2 linked regions of the Homo sapiens genome follow. The main gene of each other region encodes a partner of the protein of the gene in region 2 in a complex. Links are inferred from orthologs where the notes say so. Each region holds a gene or a part of one and is shown on either strand. Other genes may lie near its edges.

What was found. The genes of interacting proteins can lie anywhere in the genome.
Region 1: the proteins of MED1 (region 2) and RARB are in contact, whole or in part, in a crystal structure (PDB 1XDK), measured with the Mus musculus proteins. The link is inferred for Homo sapiens from one-to-one orthologs. Residues at the interface, in NP_001073587.1 of Mus musculus: His642, Pro643, Met644, Leu645, Met646, Leu648, Leu649, Lys650, Asp651; in NP_001276689.1 of Mus musculus: Ile264, Val267, Lys271, Phe276, Ile281, Gln284, Ile285, Leu288, Lys289, Pro435, Leu436, Glu439, Met440.

Annotation. Positions count from the first base shown.
Region 1 is NC_000003.12:25,592,181-25,595,930, reverse strand, and holds part of RARB (retinoic acid receptor beta), read right to left. Parts: intron 2,429-3,750; coding exon 2,224-2,428; intron 1,412-2,223; coding exon 1,253-1,411; intron 1-1,252. UniProt on the Homo sapiens protein: Receptor for retinoic acid. Retinoic acid receptors bind as heterodimers to their target response elements in response to their ligands, all-trans or 9-cis retinoic acid, and regulate gene expression in various biological processes.
Region 2 is NC_000017.11:39,416,572-39,420,321, reverse strand, and holds part of MED1 (mediator of RNA polymerase II transcription subunit 1), read left to right. Parts: intron 1-403; coding exon 404-605; intron 606-3,750. UniProt on the Homo sapiens protein: Component of the Mediator complex, a coactivator involved in the regulated transcription of nearly all RNA polymerase II-dependent genes.

The DNA of each region.
Region 1 (3,750 bases), on a different chromosome or scaffold from region 2:
ATATGATGTCTTAGTTTCAGGAAATAACAATTTACAAAGAGAAGTTCCTGATGAAAGAAGTGTATCTTGAAAAAGACAGGTTGATGGCAGTTACCCACAAACAGAGGAGTTCACGATGTGCAGTGACTATTGACAACTAGATTTAGCAGCACTCTGTCCAGTACAATACCCACTAGGTAGCTAAATTTAAATTTGTTAAATAAAATGAGAAAAACAGTGCCTCAGTTGCATAAGCCACACTTCAAGTGCTCGAGAACCTCTTGTGTCTGGTGGCTACTGAACTGGACAGTACAGATTATTTCTGTAATTGCAGTAAATTCTATTAGATATCACTAGTCTAGTCATCTATACAGAATGATAGTATTATGTTAAACAGCCTCATTTTTAAAAATCAAAGATACCGTATTCACAACCACACTGGTATCTGCTGTTTACTTCTACTCTTAATTCCATGCAAGGATGAATTCAGAATGCTCATCTAGGAGACCTCTTAGAAGGAGCTCGAGTTAAGACTGCTTGTCAAACAAGTTCCCTGTGCTTTTAAGCACTTTCTGAAATACAGAGTTTATTCCTTGGCTAGCAAACATCTTCAGAGACAGAGTAAGTAGTCTGATGGGGAAAGGAGAATGACAATAGCCCATTTGGTACCAGGGATAGCTGCTGAGTTGTCTCTCTACATAGAAAAACCTTACTGTTAAACACTCAACTGTGATATGGATCTAGGCACCTCTATTAATTGCTTGAGTTGCTACATAAACAGAAAATCACTAGGCAAAGAATATACCTCTTAGGCAAGAATTCCTTTGCTTAGAAGTGTGCAGAAGAAAATCTGCCTATATACAAAAGAGCAATGGCTAAAGTGATTGAGAGAAACTTAACAAAGGTTTAGATATTCAAGAAAAACTGGAGTCAAGGTAACATAAACCAGAGATGTGTAGAAAGCTGGAATTAAATGTATGAACCTAGAGAATTAGCCTGTTTTAGTACATTCTCTTGAAAACAATGTTTTTCTAATCAGTCATGAATTTTAAAGCTCTCAATCGTTAAGATAATTGAATAGGGTAAGATTTGAGGTGTTTTTTTTTTTTTTTTAGAGGGGGGAGGGATAGTATTTCCTTTTGATTTCAATGAGAAATGAGTTCCAAGACTTTAAAAGCAGCCATTAAACATCCTGAATTGAATAAAGCAACACAACCTGGTAAGGCCCTCAAGTCCACTGTGTGACTACAGTACTGAGAGCACGAAGACATACCTTTAGCACTGATGCTACGGAGATCTGTGATTTTCATTAAGATCTTTGGAAACATGTGAGGCTTGCTGGGTCGTCTTTTTCTGATATAAATTTTTAGTGCTTCCAGCAATGGTTCTTGTAGCTTATCTACTTTTGTCGGTTCCTCAAGGTCCTGGCGGTCTGGATACCAGGAATAAAGTATTAAACAAAATCAGGATTTATGCCCTTTTCCCCTCTTCCTTGTTTCCTTATTCCTACTGTTATGAGTTCATTAATTTGGTAATTCAATTACATACACAAATTTGCAGACTTATGCAGTTGCTTTAAGCAGTGATACTTGAAAAACAAAAAAAAACTGCCCCCCCTTGGTAGTATAAACATTTTGATGCCTGGTTGCTTTTGTCCCAGGGAAAGAATTACCTCCTTTGACCAGAAGGTGTCACTACCAAACTGAATTAAAACAAATCTTGAGCAGGATGGTTATTTTAGCATAAAATAAATCTGCTCCTTAATTAAAACCATTACTTTTTAACCACTTACGATTCAGCCTCCTATAGGCCAGTAGGGGTCACTACAAAGAAGAAAGCTAAATTTTATCCCAGTCCTGCAAGGGTTGGTGGGAGGGCCCAGCCAAATACTTGTATGCCTACCCACTAGATAACAAACAGCACATACAAGTCCCTTGTCATCATTCAAATGTCCCCAGACAATTCATTTTATAATAGTGTGATCCTGCCTTTAAGAAAAAAAATCTGTGGCAATTGGAGTAATAGCTTTTTGGGATTTCTTTCTGAGCAGAAGGATCCCAAATACCATTAGTTAATTTGTAACAACATGGAAAAATACAATGAAACCAGGCATGTATGCCTGGCTTTATTCACATGTTTTCCCATGTAAAACAACTCCAAAAGGGAAATGAGGAATTTTTCACAAATTACAAGTATAAACTGTTCTTCATGGAATTTCATGAGGCTTTTCTACATAGTTGGTACCTCCACAGATTAAGCAGATGGCACTGAGAAGGCCTGTTTCTGTGTCATCCATTTCCAAAGGCAGGAGCTGGTTGGCAAAGGTGAACACAAGGTCAGTCAGAGGACCAAATCCAGCATTGTGCATCTGAGTTCGATTTAGGGTAAGGCCGTCTGAGAAAGTCATGGTGTCTTGTTCTGGGGTATACCTGGTGCAAATTCTAAGAATCTGGAAGGAAAAAAAAATTGATGGATGTTCTAAGCCATCCTGTCCTGAAATCATCAATCAGATGTAAGCAGGAAATAACATGAAGATTTCCAAGGAGCTCTTGGGGCAGTCTGTCCCCCTTTCACATGTTGAATGTCTTCTTTAGCTCTTTCATTAAGAGACTACAGAAGTCAAAACCCAGGGGCTAAAGTTTTTTAGGAAACACTAAACAGGACATAAGAAATTTTGAGAAATATCTTTTTAAAAGTAATTCATTACTTGACTCAAATAAACATTTACTGAGTGCCTAATTATGTCCCAGGCACTGTGCCAGGTGCTGGAGATAAAAAAAAAAAAAGATGAATAAGATTCTATTTTTTAAGAGCTTACAGTCTGCAATAAATGACAATTTATTAAATGCATAGTATATATCAAGTTTTGTACATACCCTACATTCAATCTTTCAAACAGCTTGGTAAAGTGAATATTATTCTTATTTTACAAATGAAGGACTTAAGGCTCAGAAAGGTTAGGTGATGTGCCCAATGTCACATAGTTAACATGTAACTGAATCTGACTCAAACCCAAGTTAGGCTCTCTCTCCCATGATGCCTCTGATCACACGGTTACACAGGCAGCTGTAATACAAGGGACATGAGTGAAACCAGCAAGGTACTAGGGAGTTCAGAAAAAGGAAAGCTCAGAAATAGCCAGGAGGAAATCAAGGGCAGATCCATAAAGAGGTAGCATTTCAACCGAACCCTAAAGTGTAGGCAGGATTTCTACAGGCAAAAAGCCTGAGTCACTCTGCCAGAGTCTCCCAGTCCCACCCAGTGTATGCTTGACACATAACCCTGTTGGCCCCCTGGGGCGCTAGCTACTAAGGAGACTCTTGCTCACTGCCCTGTGCCTCTAGGCCTCACTCAGAGCAAAACAAACTAAAAATGCCTTGCTTCTGTAGATACTCAATCCTGGTTCATGTTTCCACTGCCCTATTAAGCCTAAATGCTGGTAAGGAGCTCCGTGCATTGCAGAGCACTTCCCCACCCAGAACCACATTTCTGCACCGACAATAAAGGGTCTCTGCTGACCAGGTTTCCATACTTGACTTTTCTCTCTGAAAAAGTTTCAGAGCTGCTTGAAGCACAGAGAGAAGTAAATCCCACCTGGACAAAAGTGAATAACTCAGGAGGTTGAAGAAGTTGAAAGTTTTTCCCAGATAATGGCATTCAATTTGACTGGGTATAGTCCTGTGAATGTCCACCTCAGTGTCAACCTACAGGAGGGCAGATGTGATCAGAAAGGCCTGCATTATTCCTGTTACACAGCCATGTGCAGAGAGG
Region 2 (3,750 bases):
AGGCTGAGGCAGGAGAATGGCATGAACTCGGGAGGCGGAGCTTGCAGTGAGCCGAGATCGCACCACTGCACTCCAGCCTGGGCAACAGAGGGAGACTCTGTCTCAAAAAAAAAAAAAAAAAAAAGAGATTTTGCATTTATGGTTTAGGAACCTCTTTAATACAGATTTCTGAGGTAGTTTTTATGTTAGCTAGGTTAGGAAATCACTAGCATAGTGCATTTACTAAAAAGACATCTTTTCAGCCTAATTAGTAATTGATTGACATTTATAATATCAGCTGATGAAAACATTCACTGTGGAGACTTTTCTGCACTTTTTTGAGTAGTAGGTTTTTTCAGGATACTTTGTGGTTGGAATACAATAGGTAACTAAATAGCACTCGTTAACTGTTCTTTTTGCCCAGGCTCTTCCTGGTCAGCAGCACTGCTATTTCCTCAACAAGGATGCTCCTCTTCCAGATGGCCGAAGTCTACAGGGAACCCTTGTTAGCAAAATCACCTTTCAGCACCCTGGCCGAGTTCCTCTTATCCTAAATCTGATCAGACACCAAGTGGCCTATAACACCCTCATTGGAAGCTGTGTCAAAAGAACTATTCTGAAAGAAGGTACTGCCTTTCCTTTGATATGCTTACTGGAAGATGGAAACTTACTTCTCCAGTGGTTCTTTAATTGGTGGCCCATCAGAATCACCTGTAGAACTTAAAAAAAGTTTTTTTTTTTTCATATTTGGCATAAAAATCAAGCAAATTAGCTGCACGTGGTGGTGCACGACTGTAGTCCCACCTACTTGGGAGGCTGAGGAAGGAGAATCGCTTGAACCCGGGAGGCGGGGGTTGCAGTGAGCTTAGATCATGCCATTGCACTCCAGCCTGGGTGACAGAGCAAGACTCTGTCTCAAAAAAAAAAAAAAATTCAAACATGTGGAGCTTTTAACACTACAGATGATGGCCAGGTGTGGTGGCTCACGCCTGTAATCCCAGCACTTTGGGAGGCCAAGGTGGGCAAATCACTTGAGCCCATGATTTGAGATCGGTCTGAGGAACATGGCAAAACCCCATCTCTAGAAAAAAGTAGCCAGTTGTGGTGGTGTGCGCCTGTGGTCCCAGCTACTCGGGATCCTGAGGCAGGAGGATTGTCGCTTGAGCCTGGGAGGCAGAGATTGCAGTGAGCTCAGATTGCACCACTGCACTCCAACCTGGGTAACACAGTAAGACCCTGAATCAAAAACAAAACACCAGGCTGAGTGCAGTGGTTTGTGCCTGTAATCCCAGCACTTTGGGAGGCCGAGGTGGGCAGATCACAAGGTCAAGAGATTGAGACCATCCTGGCCAACTAGTGAAACCCAGTCTCTACTAAAAATACAAAAATTAGCTGGGTGTGGTGGTATACACCTGTAGTCCCAGCTACTTGGGAGTCTTAGGCAGGAGAATCACTTGAACCCAGGAGGCGGAGGTTGCACTGAGCTTAGATCATGCCACTGTACTCCAGTGTGGGTGACAGAATGAGACTCCCTCTCAAAAAAAAAAAAAAAATCACAGATGCTGTGTTTCCACACGAAGATGAACTGAATGATAATCTCAGTGGGAAGAGTTGGGAATCTAAACTCCACAAATCATTTTGATGGAACCAGTCTGTAGACTAGCATTTGGAGACCACTGCTTTTTGCAATGTTCTTAACTCTTTTTCTGAACATAGTAATGTAACTGGGTATTTTAGGGGCTGTACCCTGTAGCAGATATACATAAGGTAGAACTTGGAATGCTGTAGTGAGAGAGGCTTTTTTTTTTTTGAGACAGGGTCTCACTCTGTTGCCCAGACTGAACCACAGTGGCATGATAACAGCTTTCTGCTGCCTCTACCTCCTTGGCTCAAGCGATCCTCCTGCCTTAGCCTCCCAAGTAGGTGGGGCTATAGGCATGTACCACCAAGCCTGGCTAATTTTTTCTGTAGAGACAGGGTCTCTCTATGTTGCCCATGTTCGTCTGTAACTCCTGGGCTGAAGCGATCCTCTTGACTAGGCCTCCCAAGGTGCTGGGATAATAGGTGCCACCGTGCTTGGCCAGTTTTAGGTTAAATTTTAGGTTGTTAGGAGAGTGCTTCCCAGGTTTAGTTCTGAGTATGTTTTCTCTCCCCATTGTTTGGAGAACTTAATCTTACAGCTTTAAGAAGGTTTAGCTCTTTTTTCTCTCAGGATTCTGGAATGCTGATGAATTTTTTTTTTTTTTTTTTTTTTTTTGAGACGGAGTCTCACTCTGTTCCCCAGGCTGGAGTGCAGTGGCATGATCTTGGCCCACTGCAACCTCCGCCTCCCAGGTTCAAGCGATTCTCCTGCGTCAGCCTCTGGCTAATTGTTTAAATTTTTTTTAGTAGAGATGGGGTTTCACCATCATGGCCAGGCTGGTCTCGAACTCCTGACCTCGTGATCCACCCTCCTAGGCCTCCCAAAGTGCTGGGATTACAGGCGTGAGCCATGGCACCCGGCGTAAATGCTGATGATTTTCAAAGACAGTTGGCTATTAGAAGCTTTGCTGTAAATTTTGGCTGTTCTAGCTAACCATAGTTAATTTTAAAAATCTTAAGTCAGAAGCGCTCTGTTGATAGATATGTGTCAGTGCCAGTGATAGACAATAAGAAATAGGGAAGGCAAATCAGATCTCTTTTATTTTTATTTATTTATTTTTTGTTTGTTTTTTGAGACGGAGTCTCGCTCTGTCGCCCAGGCTGGAGTGCAGTGGCGCAATTTCGGCTCACTGCAAGCTCTGCCTCCTGAGTTCACGTCATTCTCCTGCCTCAGCCTCCCGAGTAGCTGGGACTACAGGCACCCGCCATCACGCCCGGCTAATTTTTTTGTATTTTTAGTAGAAACGGGGTGTCACCGTGTTGGCCAGGATGGTCTCGATCTCCTGACCTCGTGATCTGCCCGCCTGAGCCTCCCAGAGTGCTGGGATTACAGGCATGAGCCACCACGCCTGGCCTTTTTGTTTTTTTTTTTGAGACGGAGTCTTGCTTGGTCACCCAGGCTGGAGTGCAGTGGTGTGATCTTCACTCACTGCAACCTTTGCCTCCTGGGTTCAAGCAATTCTCTTGCTTCAGCCTCCCAAGTAGCTCGGATTACAAGTATCCACCACCATGCCAGGCTAATCTTTGTAGTTTTACCAGAGACGGGGTTTCGTCGAGTTGGCCAGGCTGGTTTTGAACTCGTGACCTCAGTGGTCTGCCTGCCTCGGCCTCCCAAAGTGCTGGGATTACATGCGTGAGCCACCATGCCTGGACTTTTTTTTCTTGATACAGGGTCTTGCTCTGTTATCGAGATTGGAAAGCAGTGGTACAGTCATAGTTCACTTTGGCCTCAAACTCCTGGGCTCAAGTGATACTCTTCCCTCAGGCTCCTCAAGTCGCTGGACTATAGGCATGCACCTCTACATCTAGTCAAATTTTAAAGAAATTTATATTATACTTTTTATTTCAGTGTACATATTTATACAGCAACATTTTTTTTGTAGAGATGGTGTCTTGCCATGTTGTATAGGATAGTCTTGAGCTCCTGGCCTCAGGCATTCCTCCCACCTCAGTGTCCCAAAGTGTTGGGATTACAGGCATGAGCCACTGTGCTGGGCCAGGAGATTCTTCTCATGGAAATAAAAATTGCTTTAGAAATGAGAAATTTTTAGTAGTTGGAGTAATAACATAGAGCATATATGTTCAAAGTTGTGGCACTTCTGTTTCATGTGTTAAAATGCCTTAAGAAGT